Linked DNA regions of Homo sapiens: all the other regions are reported to be linked to region 1. Evidence: microRNA targets listed by miRTarBase, many of them from high-throughput screens and not tested one by one. Region 1 holds a microRNA gene; each other region holds the end of a gene's coding sequence.

The links. The annotated mature microRNA hsa-miR-581 reads UCUUGUGUUCUCUAGAUCAGU and lies in region 1 at 3,706-3,726, opposite strand. An mRNA with a match to its seed (bases 2 to 7 or 8) in the 3' UTR can be bound and repressed. Matches are read on the target gene's strand: a 7mer-m8 pairs with bases 2 to 8, a 7mer-A1 pairs with bases 2 to 7 and ends in A, and an 8mer does both.
Region 2: miRTarBase lists C1orf116 as a target of hsa-miR-581. Seed matches in the 3' UTR shown: 7mer-A1 at 6,302-6,308 and 7mer-m8 at 4,451-4,457.
Region 3: miRTarBase lists SATB1 as a target of hsa-miR-581. Seed matches in the 3' UTR shown: 7mer-m8 at 3,096-3,102.

Annotation. Positions count from the first base shown.
Region 1 is chr5:53,947,859-53,954,982 of GRCh38, forward strand. It overlaps MIR581 (microRNA 581), which reads right to left and starts at 3,741; the gene lies at 3,646-3,741. The region is part of intron 4 of ARL15 (ARF like GTPase 15); the gene reads right to left.
Region 2 is chr1:207,015,463-207,022,586 of GRCh38, forward strand. C1orf116 (chromosome 1 open reading frame 116) reads right to left here. Exons shown (of 4, transcript NM_023938.6): 4 at 3,060-7,124. The coding sequence ends at 6,496. Among named protein-coding and RNA genes, the nearest start is that of C1orf116, 14 kb to the right of the region's middle. RefSeq lists an enhancer at 4,085-5,284.
Region 3 is chr3:18,342,555-18,349,678 of GRCh38, reverse strand. It overlaps SATB1 (SATB homeobox 1), which reads left to right. Exons shown (of 11, transcript NM_002971.6): 11 at 1-4,302. The coding sequence ends at 509. Among named protein-coding and RNA genes, the nearest start is that of SATB1, 79 kb to the left of the region's middle. RefSeq lists an enhancer at 4,288-4,908.

The DNA.
Region 1 (7,124 bases):
ATGAAAGAAAGGGGGAGGGCTGGGAAGGAAGCAAGAATCTAGTTTAGAAGAAAACAGCCCTCTCCACCTTCCTCCAAAAATCTCCGTGAGTGCATTACACTACAAGATTAAAGAAAATAGAAATTAAATGAGACACCAGTGGAAAAAAATGAGATAAAAAGGGAGGTTGCAGAAGGAAACAATAAATTAAACAATAACACTGTAGAACTAATAAACAAATTAGAAAGAAAAGAAATAGAATAGGCACAGGTAAAAAATAGTGACATAGCAAAAACCCTTGGAAACTTGAGATAATGACAGTGAATACGTAAGATGATGATATACAAATTAAGGCAATTTGGGAACAGAGGACAGATAATGACAAACAAATGTAAGTGTCCAAAATAAAGTTGGAACTACTGTAGTAGGTTCCTTAACAAATATTAGTAAACTTTACCCCACCTAACTCCTATCATCATGTATGTAAAAACAGTGTTTTATGGTTCTTTTGGTCTTCTATATGACTACCTACAGAAGCAAACAATAAAAATGAACTGATAGGTCTTGTAAAATTTGCCCTGATGTCTATTTTGAAGTGTTATAAATTCGGTATTTGCGTAACAGTGGTTCTCCTGGAGAAAATCATTAGAAATTTGATCCTACACCCTATTCTTATTCACTGAACAGAAAAGAGAAATCTGGAAGCAATCTGGTAATATAAAACTATTAGTTTATGCTGTTGGAGCCTTTATCTAACAAATTTCCAAAACAACTACAGTCGTTAAAATAGTGAAATTATTATTTCCAAGTGGACATATATTTTTATTAAAAGAACAATTAAGACAGTTTATTTGATATATTTTAACACTTTTCATTAACCAGGGGTCATACACTTGCTAAAATACTTTTCTGGAAGCACAGGTAATATTCAGAACAAGAGTCACAATTGTGCCCACTCAGCATTCCTTCACATTGATCAGAACTCACTTCACTGAGAAGTACTGCACTAAAGGATTTAATGAGACATGCTACTGAAACATAAATGTACATAGCCCGGAGCTGAAGGATTTTATAATAACAAACTCATACACACACAGAACCGCAAATCATTACCTTCACTGCCATTCTGAAGAGAGCTGGCACTTTAGTCGTAAAGTTTTTCCTTAAGTTTAGAAGTGTCCCTGATTGCAAATAATATTCAACAAAAAATTTATAATCTTAAAAAAGATACTGCTAAATAAAATAAAAGCTACATACTGCCTGCCACATGGAAGGTGCTTGATAAACATCAGTTAGATAAATAAGCCTCAAGACTCACAAGACAATACAATGATTTAATTCCCATTGGATATGGTATTGTGGAGGACTCTAAATTTCTGAGTCAGCACCCTTCATTTCATGTTGTTTATAGACTAGCTTTGTAACCAGTATTCTACTCAATAGCTAGAGTATTCACAAATACACTAAAATAATGAAGAATAAGCCACTGTGTAATTAAATATGAATAATGAAGACAGCACTTATAACAGTTTGACTTCTATTTCAAGTGAAAAACAGGAAGTTGCCTAAAAAGTTGCTGTGTTTAAAAATGGGTCTTTTTATGGATTTATAATACAATCAAGGGACCAACTTTTGCAGTTTGTTCTCAAATATTAGGAGATGTAGTTTCTTCATCATTTGAAATGATGACATGGAAGACAGCATGCATAAGATCAAACACCTTTTACTCAAAATACAGAATTAATGGGCTTGCTCATATTCCAAGGATGTGTCTTCTTAAACACTGGTTTGTTTCATAGTTCTAAGTTTTTTGGAGGGCCTGACTTAATCCAAAAATACTGTGGCATGCCTACAAGAGTTAACCTCTTATATTTTGAAGTAGAACAAAAAGGGAACATATATTCTGACAGGAGATTCTATCATAATCGCTCAGAACACTGAACTTTTTCAACTTGATGAAAGGTTTCTCCAAGTTAGAAATACTATAAGTAACTCTTTCCAAAAGACTGCTCGTATGTGAAGAGTGAAAAAACAAACTAAACAAAAGCAAAAACTTAGGACTAAAGACTAACAAATGCATATGAAGAAGGAAAGTGCCTTTGCTCAAGGTCATTGTGCTAACAGAATGACTTGCTTAGTTCACGTGCAGATATTTGTTGGCAAATGTTAAGCGATGCAGAAAAAAAGGCACTACATAAATGTGAAAAACAAATAAGTAAAACCATAAACATGAATGTTGTAATTTGATGATTATGTGCAAGATCAATCAAGTAGTGAAAGTATGTAGTATTCAAGTGTTTAAAGTGGCGGCCTGGGCATGGTGGCTCATGCCTGTAATCCCAGCACTCTGAGAGGCTGAGGTGAGAGAAATGCTTGAGGCCAGGAGTTCAGGACCAGCCAGGGCAACACAGTAAAACCTCGTTTCTACAAAAATTAAAAAAAAAAAAACGACTATGCTCAAGGTAGTGAGGAACCACTTCTACTAAGCCAGATGGAAATTGCTAAGAACAGAAAGACGACGATGTCATGACGGCTGGTTAACTATGGGAGCAGCTGGGGTTTGAATTTCTGTTAACAGTAGGAGAAAATAAGGACTGGAGACAGAGGGGGAATCTGAGAAATTCTCTATTTTGGTGGCTAAGCTAACACAATCTACTCACAGCTTTTTTTCATTTGATTACCATTTGAAACAGATTACTTCTCCATTTGAGGGTAATCGTGAAGCAAGATTTCAACTCATGCTCTATCACTACCCATTCCAGGCCACAAATTAAAATAGCCTATTACTACTTTTATACACACAATAAAGAGATCTTCCATCCCAATCTTCTCCATGCTTTTTTTTTTCTCAGCAAAGTTCATGTAAACCAGTAGGTCATAGTAAATCCTAAAATGTATTCCCACAGTGAGATACTTGGAACATTTTCCTTCTGGATTTTATTAAACATAATGTTCTAAGCATTATGAGTGCTCTAAGGTATTTCTTGAATAATAACCCAAACTGCAGAGTGAAAGTAAGTGGCAATTAAAATCCCGAGACAGACGGGAACACTGAGACTAAGAAATAACAGCATCTGTTCCTGACGATGGCTGGACTGCTGATCTAGCTTGGGGTCAGCAAACTTGGCCTGAGGGCCAAATCCAGCCCACTCCCTGTTTTCATATGGCCTGCAAGAGCCAAGAATGGTTTTCACAGTTTTAAATGGTTGGGGGAAAAAAATCAAAACAATATTAGCATATTAAGAACATAAAAATTAGATGAAATACAAATTTCAATGTCCATAAAGTTTCACTGAAACACAGCAAGATTCATTTGTTTATATATTGTCTATTGCAGCTGGGTATGGGAGAGCTGAGTAGCAGGGACTTTGAGTATGGCCTACAAAGCCTATATTTACAATCTGACCCTTTAGAGAAAAGGTTTGCAGACCATGAGCTTGATCAGAACTTCAAATACCATCTGTGGTGAAGGAGCTGGTTTGTTTTGAGTATTTGTTTTCTAACCCATCATAGATCTGAGCTAAGCTTTTGTAGAATACAAAAATCATATACTTTGGATGTTGCAGAGATGTCAGATTGCTATAAATTTCCTAAATGTTTACTCTCAATTTCTGTATTTATCTTCTTGCATACTCAAACAGATATTTTGTGGACTGGCACCAGTCTGCAGGTGGTTCTGTGTAGGTATTCTTTGTGTTCTTTAGATCACACAAATTTTCTAAAAGCACTGATCTAGAGAACACAAGAATACCTTCACATAACTTTTTGGAAAACCTTACTTACTCCTTCCCTATATACTCCTTCCCTATATATTTTCGATATGATGACCACTAAAAATATCAGTAAATAAATATATTGCTTTGTAAATATATTAACTAGATAAAATTATAGTTTTTCCATGAATCTTTTTCAAGCATTATGCTTTATGCTTTAAAATTATAACCAGTTTCTTCCTTACCAGCTACCACATTATATATTTTTACTGTTCTCTTAGACTTTACATAAAAGAATTTTTTTTTTTTTTTTTTTTTTTTTTACATTTTGTGCTTTGGGGAATAACTCAAATTCCATAAACAAAACTATTAGTACAAATGTTTTCTGGACAATCTGTGCTGTGATTTTGGAAATTGTGTGTGAAAGAGGAGAGTAGCTGGGCGTGGTGGCTCGCGCCTGTAATCCCAGCACTTTGGGAGGCCGAGGAGGGTGGATCATGAGGTCAGTTCAAGACCAGCCTGGCCAAGATGGTGAAACCCTGTCTCTACTAAAAATAAAAAAAATAGCCAGGCATGGTGGTGGGTGCCTGTAATCCCAGCTACTCGGGAGGCTAAGGCAGAGAATTGCTTGAACCCGGGAGGCAGAGGTTGGAGTGAGTTGAGATCACGCCACTGCACTTCAGCCTGGGCAACAGAGTGAGACTCTGTCTCAAAAATAAAAACAAACAAACAAAAAAGAAGAGAGTGAAAGAATTTGAGTCCTTGCACAGACAATAACTGTTTTTTATGTTTAAACTTTTTAGTTTCTTATGTTAAACTTTTTATGTTTAAACTTTCAAAAGGTTGAATAAATTTCATCTTATGCTTGCATTATAATAGCAAAGTTCCTTGATATGTCAAAGGCCACAAAAGTAATTTTTAGCTTAGGTACAAAACGTGCCTTGGGCCTGTTTTATATGATACTCCTTGGTTTTAGCACTACATTAAAAAAAATGAATGTGAAAAAAATCATTTCCATGAAAGTTTTTTAATTGGCTCAAAGTTAGTAGCAATTTACTTTCAAATTTCAATCTTTATCTCTCTAGGGAAATACTTAATTCTACTGCAATTTTTATTTAAGAAATGAAATAATTTCTAAACATTTTTAAACTTTAAGAAAGATGAAACTCTGTTATTGTGCCAATGACTTTTTATTATTAGGTGTCAGATGATAAAACATTCAAATAAGAAACAGCACTGGGATTTCACAGTGTCAGGAGAAAGGAAAGTCTATAAAAAGAAACTCAAGGTGTGTTTAAGTATGTGAAAAGAGCAGATAATCCCTAAACCTGTTTTATTTGAAGGCAAATAGGAAGATGCTTGCTTTATTTGTTGTTACAGAAGAATGTTGTTGCTAGCAAAGGATAAAATCTCAAAGCAGAGGGAGAGGGAATATAAAATGGCTGTAGATTAAACTTCTGCAAATGTTCACTTTACTACGCAGCTCCACTGTCATAAAACAGTCAAAATAGTAAGATATACTCATTCAGAACAATGACACAATGTTTATAAATATTTATATGTATGCTGAACTAGACCATTACTAAAAGCTGCAGCTGGGGTATAGAAAGAAAACTAGGATTTGATTGGAGGCCTTATTTTGCAAATTACTAGGCTCCATGATCTTGTGGAACTTACTTAACCTTTCTGAGTCTCAGTTTCTTATCCATAAAATAAATGAGATTCTACCTACCTCTGAAGAATTGAGGAGGATAATATACGTGTCTTGTATAAAGCACTATGCAAATGTGAGGGGTTATTGTTATTTAGTAGGGAGCTCAGAGAATCTTAATATGTATTATATTTAAATTTTCTATAAATAAGTGAACTTTTTATACAGCAAAGTAGATTGAGTTGTTTGTATATGCCCTTTCCTAATATCACTATTTCTTGAAGCAGAGAATATATTGAGGTAAATCCTCATTAGAAAATTTATTACGCAAAATTTAACCAACTGTAGTTGTGATCAGTGCTACTGATGGTCAGTGTGCTATGGGTGTGAAGCAGGAAGACCTTTTCATATGAAGAGGGTGGAGGGCAAAGGTGGTAGGGATGGGTAGAGGCAGGGGCAGGTGCAGTGGGAAATACATTTTGTAATGCCGACGCCTGAAGGAAGAGGAGGTGTCAGCCAAAGGAATGTGAGAACAAACATTTTCTATATTTAATGAGACAATCATAATTAATACGGATATATCAAAAGTTCTCTGATCCATCATAATATCTATTTGTTGATTCAAAAGTGACAAGCAATAATTATTATGTAGGAGCCTTACGCTTTAATGAATTATCTATGATCACTTAAAAACACTAGGTTTTCCATTTCAGACTAAGTAGTGAGATGGTAATAGATTTTTGTTAACCTTATACAGATGTACATTAAACATATGGTATAAGAATAGCATTCTATTTTCAAAACCTGAGATTATTGATTTTCAGATCTTTAGTTGAATATGTATCGGTACAAAGACTTCTCTGTTCCATACAAGCTATTTCTCATCTTCTACTTAAAAAAAAAAAAAAAAAAATCACCAAAGACAGGGGAGCTTTCTTGCATTCCTCTAAGTGGTAGAATTATCCTAATGTTTGGGAAATCAGTCCTGGCATCCTTTAGTCTGGATAAAACATTTGAAGAAGCATGGTATGACATACAGGCAAGGAAGACCCAGCTACTTCAGTAAGGTTGCTGTATATATCCTCTCCATCCATCATCTGCAAATACCTTCCTCTGTCTTGGGATCCAAGCCCTCTGCCAAGGTGTAGAACTTGTATACTGATTTCTCATTATTTGGAGGTGATTAAGCTAATCAGTTAATACAACAAAAGGAGAAAAATAAGGTAATTACTTTCTAAGAATATTTCCATGTTCCATAGCCCAATTCCTCACTGGATCACCTGTCCACTCCTTGAACATCATGTCCCTGCGTTTCCCACTTCCCAGCCATTTCATGTCTGCCACAGAACAGTTTCCTTTCACACCAAATGCTTGATAACCTGAAAAGTGAGTAGAAACTCATATTCAACTTTAAGAACTCATGTAAACAGGTTAGGTTATTGAGAATCCACACAGTGTTAGGCCTCTAGATCAAATATTTTACATAAATAGACTCATTTAATACTCAAAACGGTCAGTAAAATTAGGCATCATTATCCAAAGTTTGCTTCCAACATACTGCTAACTAGGACCACACTGCCTCTTTGCATAGGAAAGAACATATTCCTTTTAAAAACACTGTTCTTAAAGTGGAAACTATTTTATGGAAAGAGCATCGATCTAATTTCTGACCTCCACTCCAGTGTTTCCACATTGCACCAGCTCTTCGGTAACATATGTGCCATACTCCAACATCACTTTCTGGAATCTGCCTAAGAAATAGTTCTTTGGGTGAAAGTCTC
Region 2 (7,124 bases), not on the chromosome of region 1:
AGGAACTAGCTATGTAAAGATGAGGAGCGGAGAACTCCAGCAGAAGGAACAGCCAAGGTAGAGTCTCAGAGCTGGGACCAGCTTGATGCTTTTAATAAGAGAACATGAAGACAGATCCTTCAGGAGCCCCTGCCTAAAGGACGGGGGCAGGAGAGTCACTCAAAGAGGAGATGACAAATATTTCCTCAGATCCAAGCAACTGAACAGAGCCAGGAACTAATCCAAAGGAGGCCTTCACAGAGTCCTGCCTACCCACTAAAGCAGAGTGTGGCAGGGTTGGTGTGAGCTGGAGGAGGTGTTGATGTTGCAAGTCAACTTGTGCTGTAGCCTCAGTCCTACTTTCAGGCATGAAGGCCCAGGAGGTAGAGAGCGCTGTACTCTCAACATGTCCAAACACAGACCCATGCAGGGGACCCCCAGATCTGAGCCTCTCGCCATGGTCTATGTCTCAGTGAGTGGTATTAGTATCCATCCAATCACGAAGGAATGAAACCAAAACATGACTCATGACCTCACCCTCTTCCTCACCCTCAGTAATAGGTCCACCAAATCATGTCAGTGATGAACATCTTCAAACCTTCTTTCTTTTCTTCTTTCTGCCACCACCACAGCTGCACAGTGCCACACTGCCTCCCTCCCAGACTACAGCAGTAGCTTTCTAACTGTTCCCTTCACACCCATCCCAGCCTGTCTCAGTCCCCTCCCAACCCAGCCACCAGAATGATCTTTCCATCTGTAGAGATGTACAGAGTTTGGCGCAGCAACTCTCTTCACGTAAGAGGAATTTTTTGAAAAGTCTCTGGGGGTTGACGCTTAGATCCTAAGAGCCCTCAAGTGTCGGGTGGAGGTGAGAAGGATTTGCTGGTTGTGCTATAAGTTGGAAAAGAAAAAGAAAGGGTGGAAGGGGAGGTGATGTGAGGCCATGTGGTTGTGATAGGTCCCCCAGCATCCCCCACACTGACCTTCAGTAAAAAACTCAGAAAATAACAAAATGCTTAACGAAACCTGATTTCCCATGGGAATCAGTGAAAGGCCTGGGCTTTGGGTCTAGACCAATAGTGAGCGGAGACAGAGACAGTGGCTTAGGGATGGCAGAGTGTGGATTGGGAAGGAGGCAGGTGTGGGGAGGCTCCGAAGCAGCACACACAGATGCAGATAGGACAGAACTGTAGGAGGCTCTTAAAACTGGAGGAGGGCTTTGACTGTTTCAGTTCTGAGGAATCTAGGTGCAGGCCAAGATTAACCAGTCCTGATGGGGGTCCCAGTTGGCATCTGAATTACACGTCTATATGATAATAATATGAATAGACACCATTTATTCAGCAGTGTGCTATGGTTTTTTTTATATGTAGTATCTCATTTGATTCTATTTTCATAAAAACTGCAAGGGGTAAGTATTATTATTGCCTTACTTTACGAGGTTCCATCCTGTTATAATCTAAGTTCGTTTTCTCTCCATTTTTAAGATAAACAATAACTGTAGGGCGGCATAAAGTTCCCTGAACCACACAACAAAGAAAGTTAAAAGATGCAAAAGGTAATCACCGAAAAGGAAACTGAAGTGCAGAGACCCTGGCAGCCTGGCTCCTGAGCCTATGCTCTTGGCCACTGTATGTTCTCAATCTCTCTTCCCTCCCCTCCTCTTCCCTCCTTTCTTATCTTCTTCCATCTATCCACTCATCCATCCATCCATCCATCAAGCCTCCATCCATCTATCCAACTATATTTCTGACCATATCTCTCTCTATATATACATAGTTGGAGGTAGATATAGATATAGATATAGATATAGATATAGATATAGATATAGCTATCTAAGTTGACATGCCAGAGGCCATGTCAGCTTAGAAGTCCCACAGCAACCTCAAACTCAGTATGCCCCAAACCGAACCTCCCGTCTTCCTGGTCCTACATGTATATATATATACATATATATATATGTGTGTGTGTTTATTTCTGACCATAGATATAGATAGGTAGATAGAAAGAAAGGAAGAAACATATGTATCTCCAACTATAGAGATAATTCCTCTTTAGGTGGGAGGTTGAATTACAGAACCTAAAAGTTTCCTTTCCGTTCTCAAGTTCTCTGAGGTTTAGTTTATTTTAGACTATATTTTGATTATTTTTGGCAGGTGTTTATCTTCCTAACTTGTTTGGATTTACCGAAACATACATTTCAGGGCTAGCATGGATCTAGGAGAAAGACCAAGTCCCTCATGTTGAGAGTGAGAAGAAGTGACCCACTAAATCTCACCTGGTCCAGGCCTCTGCCTGTTTCACATTATTTTGAATTCTGGATACGTGGCAAGTGGTGATAAGGACAACAATCCAACTAGGTAATGAGTAAGAGAGAGTGACAGCCTGGAATTAGAGTGTAATCTGTTTTTACCACATGTGTATGCTAACAGTCAGTGATGATTGTGACAGTGGTCATGACTCCAGCAATTCACAGGTCCCTACACCTGAAGAGATTTAGAGACCTCATCCAATGTACTTCTTGCCTCCTGATAACTAATGCCTGATTCATTCCAGAGATGAACAAATTTAAAAGAACGTGCTATTTAAAATAAAAAAAAGGAATTTTAAAACCTTTTCTAGCTTTTATTTCTTTCTGAGGAGTTCCCTCCTGTTATATGCTTATTTTTTTTACCTTCATTTTAAAAATAAATAACTGTAGAACAGCATATAGTTCTCTGAACCACACAGCAAAAGAAAGTAAAAGGAAGCAAAAAGAAGCTTGCTCTATGGTCATGGGCAGTAAGAGACTGATGATACAGGAGAAGTTGGATTTGAGGATATGAAAGCTGGAAACAGCTGGTTCAGGCTGCACCGGAACACACACATTACACCCATGCCAATTGCTGTCTTTTCAAACTCCAGGAAGCCTGGCATGGGTGAAGCTGAGTCACGTGGAGGCTGTGCCGAAGCCTGGTTGTGCCGTAAGTTTTGTGTGCAGCAGGCTCTATCTTTCTCTCAGAAGTGAGTTGGGTGAGCCCTTGGTATCCAACCCTCCCTACAGTCACCTCCTTTGAGAAGAAAAAAATAAGACCCAGAAGGTAGTATTATCATTTATTGAGTAGCTACACTGTGGCCAGAACTAAGCTTTACATGTTTTATATCACTTATTTATCTCAACAATCTTGAAAGGGTGGTATTATTTTCCCCGTCTTATAGGTGAAGACTCTGAGGTTCAGAAAGTTAAAGTGATATCGCCAGGGTTCCTGACTGGTAAGTGATGGAGGCTGAATTTGAGCCAGATCTATATGCTCCATCATCACTCTCCTGGGGAAAAGAGCCTAGATGTGTTCTATCTGCATTCCTGCTTAGATTCTGCATGACTTCTCCTGTCCATCCCCTTGGCCCCCTCTCCTCTAGTCCATGAGATTACAGCTTTGCACACTGACAGGAGGGTCCTTCCTTCTTAGCCTACACATACAACCAGGTGTCAAAGGATGGAAGGGTTCATCTCACACACTCACAGACCATGTAGACTATTCAATCTACACCTCCAGCTCGAACTCAGAACATTGACAGGAACCTGCTCTTCAATCTTTCACCTCCCCTTTCTCCATGAAACGAACGTCAACATTCACACAGCAGCCCATCCCCAGCCTACAGGGCGGCCCCTGCCAGATCATGCTTCCCACTGTGGAAGAAGGCATGTACGAGTGAGTGGGCTCATCGGTTGACCTCTGTGTGAGATGGCACGTGGTCCTACCCTGCAGAGTCAGAGCACAGAATTCCAAGTGTAGCACAGGTGTGGCAATTCAGAAGAGCAGCTGTCAACACATCTGAGGGCACAGACCCCCCTATCATGCCAGGCTGGGAGAGGCCACTCCTGTATTTGGCAGGTGGCTTGTGCCCAGTGGCATCAAGGCTATGGCAGGGTATAGCAGAGATCTAAGGCCAAGTGGAAGTAGAGCTGTCGCTTTGATTTTGAAAATCAAATGAATGGCCTTTACAAACTTCCACCCACAATTCTTTGAAAAGGGATGAGTAACTCTGACCCTACTCTTACCTCCCTCCCCATCAATTCAAGCTGAATTAAGAGAAATCCTATGTGGATACACAGATACAATGACCTCAGCTCTGTCTAGCACCACTTTCAGGGAGGCGGATGTCCTCACTGGGCCCTCTTGCATCTCTTCAAAATGGGAATGACCAAGTTTGGATTTATTATTCTATTCTTGAATCCCAAAGACCATCCTAAGAGCAAAATATGCTCCTTGAAGGATGAGGATGTGGAGAAGCACGGTATCTTTAAAAAACAAGGGAAGGGAGTCTCAGATTAAGAAAACTGGAGAAATGGGCATGTCAGTAGGATGAGGATGCCTAGTGGCAGGTGCAGGATGTCTGTGACTTTGTCGTGTGTGGGAGAAATGACCTTTCTCAGGATGTGGGAATATAATAGGCTGTACTCCTGATGACCTTGACCATCCTAATCACACTTGTGTGATGCCAGGGCCCCAGGTTCCACCCAAGTTTTACTTTATAGCTATTCCCAAGTTTCCCTATTAATCAAGAAAATTAATGAATAAGGAATAAGGTGATCATTCTTCAGGTTATGGGTTGAAATAGACACAGAAATCAACTCAGCTGAATATAGCATGTGGAATCAGTCCTCCAGAAGGCAGCTTTCTCTCTTTCTGGGGGTGTATAATAAGACATAACTTGGCCGGTTGTGGGAGTCCTCATCAGCCGTGACAGACCAAGTCCTCACCCATGGCCAGGAATGAGGCACAGGCTTTTGGATGTGCGTGTATGAGCAAACGTACACAGAAACCGCCACACCCACACCTCACATACCATGACAGGGTGGAGTATTTGTTGTCCTTATGTTAACCTTGTCACCGTTTTCAGAAATTCTGGGCTTTGATGGTGCTGCGTCCATCAGGACACAGTCCAGAAATTCTCAGCAGCCTTAAAAGGCACCTTTCCAGCAACATTCCCTTCATCTGCCCCTCACATCTGGGCATCCTGGACTCCAAGCAGTTCACAACCATAAGTAAGATTTACTTCCTAAGGGGAAGCAGGAGTCATGTCTGGCCATGTCTCACCTCCAAGCTTGTATTTGCAAGCCCACACCACCCACCCATAATACCCTCTTTCGGCATTTGCTCAAGCTGCACAACTTGGTCACGGAATTTGAGGGGAGAGGTGTTCTGGTTAATGATGAGTTACCATATAGCTATCTTCCAAAGATAAAATTAAAAGCCACAGCAATAACTATTAGTTTGAACAATATTTAATCTCTGATGCTTCAGAAGGCACTTTGAGATCTTGAAGGGCCTTAGGGTTGAGTCTTTGATGGTGACTATGGCTCCTTAGGGTGCTGTGTGGATGTACAAGAGCACTGGCTAAGGAGAGGTGGCAGCATGCAACAAGGGTAAGAACCTCAGCTCTTTCCCTAAATGGCAGGCTGACCCGGGGTTAGTCACTTCCCTTCCCCAGCAGCACTGCGTCAGAGCTTCTCTGAGGCCCCTCTTACCTCTGATATTCTATTAAGACTGGCAGAGGATGTATTGTGTGGGTTTTCTATCACTGGAACTGAGAAAAATTTAAAACTACCTGCATCAGCACAGAGAAGATCTGAAACGGTTCTTGGGTGTTTATAAAGCCCGTGGGCTGGGCTCCCATCTTGATGTCAGCCCAGCCCTGGGGTCAGTGCAGACTGAGATACGGAGCAGGAAAGCAGGAAGAACGGGAGTAGCAGAGTCAGGGACGACAGCACAGTTGGTGATTGAATTTATCAAGCCTGTGGAGAAGGACTCTCCCTGGTGGAGGTAGTGGCATAAATATGTGGTCACTTATCCTGCCTTCTCAGACCAACAAGAGCTGTTCTGCTATCAATCAACCGAGAGATTGGGTTACAGGGACGTATCCTGTCTTTGGGACTGGTGATACTGAGAGGGCAGTGGGTGAAGAGATAACGAATCAGCTCCTCTTAGCCCAGGCCTTGTCCAGAAGGCTGGAACTGAGAGAGGGATCTGGCAAGGTATGAGCCAGTCTCCATCCACTGTAGGGATTCCAGGAGGCCCATATTTCATGTGACCCTGCATTTGCTGGATGTGACTTTTTTTCAAGTCATTGACACGTCCATTGTCTCATTTGACTTTTTGTCTCAGGCATGGCCAGCCCCTTCACTCAGCTCTCACTAGGCTGGACTCTACCCAATGTAAGAAAACATCTAACAAGAGCAAAATTCTGAACAGTGACTCATTGTGTTATATCAATAGCTTCAGTGATGTATCCAGCGGCCCCCCCTCCACACACACACCAAACACACACACACACACCCTCTTGTGGAGATCACCTTCAGAATGATCCACATGGGAACTCAATGGCACAACACTGAATATAAATGTATGCTTGGACTCAAATCTCTCCCTCCCATTCATCTTGAGCCCTGAGTTGCGTGGTGGCAAAGGCTCCCAAGTGGAGCATGTGTCTCTTCTTGTTCAGCCAGGACAGGGTCTGTACTGGTCGCAGAGTCTACTCCTTCAACAGTCCCAGCTTCTTCAGGGCCTCCCTTCTGTGTTCATTGGGGACACCCTTTGGGGAGATCTTGACACTGACACAGGGGGGGCGAGGAAGCTTGTCACGGCTCTGTCCTTGGTAGGACAGGCGCTTGGAGCTCTGCTCCTGCTCCAGGTCAGCCAGCTTGCCTACCTGGATACCTGCAAAATCTTTCCCCGTGCCCAGGGAGGCCGGGCGGGGCCGAGAATTACGTAAGACACTGGGCGAGATCTTGTCCAAGAAGGAGCCCTTTCCCAGAGAAGTGCTGGTTTTGGGGCTGGCATCTTTCTCAGTTGAAAGGTAGCTGCTCAGTCCCACGCCTGAGCGCTCCAGAGTGTTGGACTTGAAGTTCATCTGTCTCAGGCCAGGGGTGTTGCTCTCCTGGAGAGTCAGCCCTGACTCTGGCTTCGGTGGAGTCAGGGCACTGTTTGCCCTTGGGGCCTTAGGGATAGAAATTGGCATAGATTTGCTAGCTGCAACATTGCCTGGAGCTGGAGACTTCATTGGCAAAGGTCCCTGAGCTGGACCTGGAGCTGGAGCCGGAGCTTGAGCCAGAGCCTTCCCAGCAGCAGGAATAGCTGCTGAGGCCTGGGCTGGAGCTGCAG
Region 3 (7,124 bases), not on the chromosome of region 1:
AGCAGCAGCAACAGCAACAGCAGCAGCAGCAGCAGCAGGCACCGCCGCCTCCACAGCCACAGCAGCAGCCACAGACAGGCCCTCGGCTCCCCCCACGGCAACCCACGGTGGCCTCTCCAGCAGAGTCAGATGAGGAAAACCGACAGAAGACCCGGCCACGAACAAAAATTTCAGTGGAAGCCTTGGGAATCCTCCAGAGTTTCATACAAGACGTGGGCCTGTACCCTGACGAAGAGGCCATCCAGACTCTGTCTGCCCAGCTCGACCTTCCCAAGTACACCATCATCAAGTTCTTTCAGAACCAGCGGTACTATCTCAAGCACCACGGCAAACTGAAGGACAATTCCGGTTTAGAGGTCGATGTGGCAGAATATAAAGAAGAGGAGCTGCTGAAGGATTTGGAAGAGAGTGTCCAAGATAAAAATACTAACACCCTTTTTTCAGTGAAACTAGAAGAAGAGCTGTCAGTGGAAGGAAACACAGACATTAATACTGATTTGAAAGACTGAGATAAAAGTATTTGTTTCGTTCAACAGTGCCACTGGTATTTACTAACAAAATGAAAAGTCCACCTTGTCTTCTCTCAGAAAACCTTTGTTGTTCATTGTTTGGCCAATGAATCTTCAAAAACTTGCACAAACAGAAAAGTTGGAAAAGGATAATACAGACTGCACTAAATGTTTTCCTCTGTTTTACAAACTGCTTGGCAGCCCCAGGTGAAGCATCAAGGATTGTTTGGTATTAAAATTTGTGTTCACGGGATGCACCAAAGTGTGTACCCCGTAAGCATGAAACCAGTGTTTTTTGTTTTTTTTTTAGTTCTTATTCCGGAGCCTCAAACAAGCATTATACCTTCTGTGATTATGATTTCCTCTCCTATAATTATTTCTGTAGCACTCCACACTGATCTTTGGAAACTTGCCCCTTATTTAAAAAAAAAAAAGAAAAAAAAGAGTTTGTTACTCTATTGTATGTTACAAAAGAACTATAGACTGTGGAATGCAGTTTAAAGATGACATATGCCAACAAATGCCTTGTATTATATGGCACTGCCGTAATTCAAATTTGTTTTTATTTTGGAAATAAAAGTTCACTGTACTTTTTTTTCATTCTCATTGTTACATGATTTTTTAAAAAAAGGAAAAGAAAATGTGAAACACAATTTAGTCCTCATTATTTATTTGTAGATCCTGCAGCATCATGTTGTAATTAATTTTTTGGAAGTTTCCGTTAAATGTAATATTGCTTCTCTTGTTACCATACTGATTCTTTTCTATTTATAAATGTATTTTGATGGGCAGTAAAACAAAGTGTCTTAAAAGTTTTAAATAGAGAAAATGTGCTTTACACAGTTGCCTATAAAAAGTGCTCTATGTTATCCAAGCAATTCATACTATAAGCTTCACTCTTATTGTTGTATGCAATTTTTACTATCATGCAAATAAGCTTAGGTAAATAAAACTAATAGATCACCTTAGAAAATTATGCAATTAATGTGAAAATAATTGATGTTTGCAATGTGTCTTCCTTTGGTTTACAATCAATTTTAAAGCTACATCTGTATAAAATTTCTGTATAAAGGTGTATTTCTTTTTTATGAGTTTATGGCTATGAAAACAGCTATTTTGTTACAGCTGGCTGTTTTTATAAGTGTATCACAATTTTCTTTATGCAGAAATGTTCTGACTAGGAGTGGTTATTGACTGTAACTACACAATTAAAATTGTTTGTATCGTATGACATGGTAGGGTTTGTCTGCTTATGTGAAGTAACTAAAGGAGTCAAAGGATGGCCCTCTCATTTAGGTGCATGTTAATAACTTGTTATTTCACTGATTTTAAAAAGAGCAATTGACAAGTTACTTGAAACACTGTAAATTTAAATCACAAACACATGCTCATTTTTAAATAGGTATGAAATTTCACAATGAAAATAACCTGTTTGGTTAACATTTTGCTTAATAAGTAGAGATAGGATGGTCAAAAGACTCTCCGACAAAAACAAATCCAGTCTCTAGCAGTTATGTTGTTAGAATGGATTCATCTGTGCTTATTTCACAATACTTCATTTATAGCAATGCTTTTCCTTAAGCTAATGTATAAATATTTCTAAAGGCCATTAATAGTAACAAAATAAGTAGGGGAAAAAATGGACCTTCTGTATAAAAACCCCTTAGCTTTTTTTTTTCACAAGTTATAAGTGGAATAAGTTAATAACTGAGCTCGTAAGTGTATCTCATAACTATAAGAGCTACATGAAGAAAATAGGAATAACACACCTGGTATTTAAACACAATCTTCAAAATTCTTGCAACATTAAACATAGTAAAATGCCAGAATATAAAATGAGGTGTGCTAATGGTCACAGGATTGAGGCCAGCATTACAGTTTGGGGTGATTTTTCTTTTATTTGCTCCCTCACTTTGTTTCCTAGATGCTAGTAGGGGTATCTGGGTTGCTTGAGATACCATTTTGCAATTGCCCCTTCTCTTTCTGCCTACCATCTTCTCAGGCCCTGATGAGCTTATTGGTAGGCAACTGGGCTGCTTTAGTGTTGAACTTGTACTTTAGAAACTGAAGTGGAATCATTGAAAACTTTCAATAAAGCTTTAAAGTTCCATTTACTTTTGAAGCACAGCTAAGCTCCTCTGAAGGCAGCTGGTTTGTTGCAAACTTAAAATTGTACTGAAAAGTTGCCACTTTTTATTTAGTAAGAAAACAAACATTCTGGCTCACTAGAGTTCAGAAAAGTAATAATTTGAGCCAAAGGAATTTGAATTAAGAAAATAGAAACTAGGTTTCATGTATTTAAAAAATAGGAAATAAAATAGAAACTCAAATGCCATGAAGTTATCTTCCTCTTCCTTATATCCCCTAAGTTTGGGTTGCAAATAACTTTCCAATTCCTAATAACCTAAATTATTTTGAAATAGTGTTTTCAGTGAAATGATGAATGTTTGAATGTTTGTTTGGTAATCAACATAACAATGCTAACAAAATTCCCACTTAGATTTTTTAACTTTTAAAAGTCAGCGTGGTTTTGATAATTTGATATTTTAAATGCCCACACATACACACACACACACACACACACACACACAAGCACATGTTAATAAACTGATAGGATGGAGTGAGCAAAATTGTTTTCAGGGAAGATGGCACATTTTAGAAAAGACTTGCCCAGATGATCTTCCATATTGCTCCCCCAATGTCATTTATCGCTCATGCCAATCCTCCTCTTGTTACCTGTGGCTATGGTAAAATTCCTTTAACAAGCTTCATTGTGTCCAAGTATTTCAGAGACTTTTAAAAGCTGGGCATGACATAGCGTTTTGTGCTGTTAAGACCTTAGCAGAGTCAGGTAGTTTACGGGTAATATTCAACCTTGTGCATCTGAATCTGTCATGGATTCCCTTCACTCAGCACTTTGCCACTAATTTGTATTACACTCTGTGGCCATATAATACTTGCACATTATGCAAAAAAAAATGTTGATAGTATCTCCTTGCCACACAATATGCAGAGTTGACAACCTTTGAAAACCAAGGTAACTAATATGTATGTCCTAGTTGTGTGGCGCTTGGTAACAAAGTCTGTACATATTATGTATAAAATGTGTATTGGTTAGCATTTAGTACTAAGAAATTCTGAGTTTAAAATAAGTGATTTTTTTCAAAGTAGCGATATCTATATCTGTGTTTATCTAAAAATACTGGCTTGAATAGAAAACATTCTCAGATGATTCAAGATTGAGTAAAAATGAGAATCCCATACATTCCATTATTAAATTCTGCCCTATTCCCAATTGTTAGCATCTGGCTGATATTAAGGTCTTTGATTGTCACAATATTCTCAATAAATGAGACATTCTGAACTGCCTGGTGATATTTTCAAAAAGAGCAATTAAAATGTGTATTCCCTCTAATACAGCTGATAGAACTGTTGTGTTAAAGCAAGTTGGAAATTTGCATGATAGTGTGGAAACCAATGGAGGTCCAAAATATTAATCATATCTAAAATATCAGAAAATATCAATACTAGTCTTCTTTATGCATATTTTTGACTTTTTAAGAGGGCTTATGAATTCAATGTTTCTTCTGAGGCAATCCTTTTAATGTAAATACTAAATACTTGCATGTCTTTTGACAAAGGCTAAACTACAATCTATTAATATGCACATTTTTGATAAAATATAAAGTACCCTAATTAAAGAAATTGTGGTAGAAGGTGTATGTCCTGAATACTATACCTGTTTAACAATACCAAATGTTAAATAAAAATAGTTTGAAATTAATGTTTAAAAGATGAGCCACATTTTTAAGACTTTCTTACATTACCCTACTTACAGAGAGCATATATCTCCAAATTTAATTCTATCAAAAGAACACTACCAAAACTCAATTACAGCTTCTTGCCTCGTACCAAGGTTGTGTGGTTACCGTTTCCCAACAATTATTTTCAGCTGCTAATACACTTACTGTGATCAAAAGCACTTGACTTGGGCCCTGTTCTCTATGATAGTGGTTGATGAGCGAATGCAGTAGAGCAGTATGTTATGCAAAGTAAACACTTGCAAAGAAACTCCGAAGTGACATATTTTGCAACAAAGTAAATGGTGAACGTTATTTACTGTGAGTTGAATCAGAAATACTTGCTTTTTGTGGTACTCAAATACAAAATTTTCATTACAATGACACTTTAATGCATGCCCTTACACCACCACCCCCACCTGACACAATGATGTCCCGTGTGCTACTCTGATTTTCCTTTCACAGGAGAACCAACAATACCTGTTAGATGAGAATGTTGAAGAAGAATATTCAAATATTTAAATATGTTTATTCGTTAGTCTGTGGCAATGTGATGCAAAATGAACATTTGTCCAGAGCACAAACCTGTTGAACGGCATCTTAATCTAGGGACAGGTTTCATCTATTCTACCTTTGTTTCCAAAGGGAATTTGCAAACATTTGTTTCACTAGATCTAGTACAAAGGCTTTCTCCTTCTGAGGCCCCCTTCTTAGCACCATCCTCACACATGTTTTAAATAATATAGAAAAAATATTTGCAGAATGCTTCATTTTATTAGGCACTGCCACAAACATATCTTGTTTAAACCTCTGCATTCCACCTTGAGGTATTTAAGGCAGGCACTGACATTCTCACTTCAAAGACAACGGAAGGGAAACTCAAATAGGTTAACTGATTTGTTTAGCTGTTAAGTGGCCACATTTGTCTCAAACTCAAGTCTACACATTTCTCTCTCTTTTCCCTAACAAAAACTCTCTCAAATGCAAAAAAAAAAAAAAAAAAAAAAAAAATGCACACACAAAAACCTAATGGCAATTCAAAATTTTCAGAAATATGTTGTAATGCATATTTTGCTAATATGAAGACTTTGATCACTAACTACTTGAAATCAAGTGTATGGAATATTTCCTCATGAAATAGTGACCTCCAAAGACCTATACACACTAAATGTCTTTTAAAAAACAAATTTTATTGTGGAAAATTTCAAACACACACACAAAAGTAGAGACAAGGAACTCCCATGAATTTATCACCTAATTCAACAATTGTAACATTTTTTCATCAATAAATACTTCATGAAACTAACGAAGATAAAACTTCTACAAAAATCTTTAAACTGTTCAATGGTTTTTACCCATAATGTCGTTATGACATCATCTTTTTTTTTAAGAAATGAATTTTCTGATTTCTAGAGAAAACATTAAAATTTGAAGTTTTTCTCAGAGCTCTCTGAGCATTTTCAAAAAGCCAAGTTTTAGAAGGAGAACATGTGAGAATTCCACAAATATTTGTAATATAAAAAAAGAGACAAACCAGTCTCTATTTATAAACAATACATGCTTTCATATCATTGTTGAAACTAAAGTACATAATTTTCAGTTATGCATAATAAAATATGTAATTAAGCAACATTCCATGGTGGATTAAAGAATTAAAAGCTTCAGGTGCAGAAAAGAATTTGTTGGCATTTTCCTTTTCAAGGTGGTATTTTGAGGTGTTACTTTTCATTTTCCTTTGACATCTTATACACAAATAAATAGACAAAAACAGGTGAGAAGCAGAGAAAATGAAGAATTGGCTCTACTACAATAGACCTGGAAAACATAACTAGGTAGAATATTTGCAACATGCCCAAGAAGGCTAAATAAAAAAGAACAGAAATCTTAGCCTGGAGAGAAAAAAAATCTCTAAACAGGGGTGTATGCCTCAAGACATAGAAATAGCATAATAAAAACTTAACTGGATTTGGTAATTCCTATATTTCAAACTACATTAAATTAATCCACACTCCAACTGGCAGAGTCCAGCAAACTTATTTTTCAAATGAAGAACTAAATTTAATTAATAATTCTGTGCTGTAAACACTGAAGTTGATACAGGCATTTGGCATTTGTCCTATTTTTTTAAAGGATAATATATCATGTAAAATCAAACTACTTAAATGTCAGAATGTGTCAGGATGATTCTGAAAGTAAATTATTCTACCAAGCATCTAAGAAGAAAATAATGTTACAGAAATGAAACTGCATCTAACATCAGTAGGACTTGCTATTTAGTGTCTAAAATTTTTCATGTAATGCTTAAACTACAGTTATAATCAACCACATAAGATCAAGTAAATTCAATATCATGTACTTATATCATTCAAATCCTGCCACAGAAATATGTTCAGTGAATGAATGAATGAATGAATGAAATTAGACAAATTAGAAAAACCATTGAACAGATTGTATGGGAATGAGAACTACATCCTATGGACAGTCCTCTTAGTGAGGCATTCTAAACTGACATGCAAAGAGGCATTTGTTGGCCTTTAAAATATCACATCTCATGGTCCTGTTGAAATATAACATTGTTATACATCTTATTACAAAAAGAATTTGCTAAGACTTTCATATATACTACAATGCAATAGAATCGAAAAGAAAAAAATACAACAAAATGAATGCAAACGAATAGAAAATAACACAAATTGAAAGGAAAGCTTGACACACACACGAATATCATGAGATCTTAACGCAATTTATTAGAGGGGACTACCAAAATTATTGATGTATGATTAACATAAACTTTACATATTTACAGTATTCAATT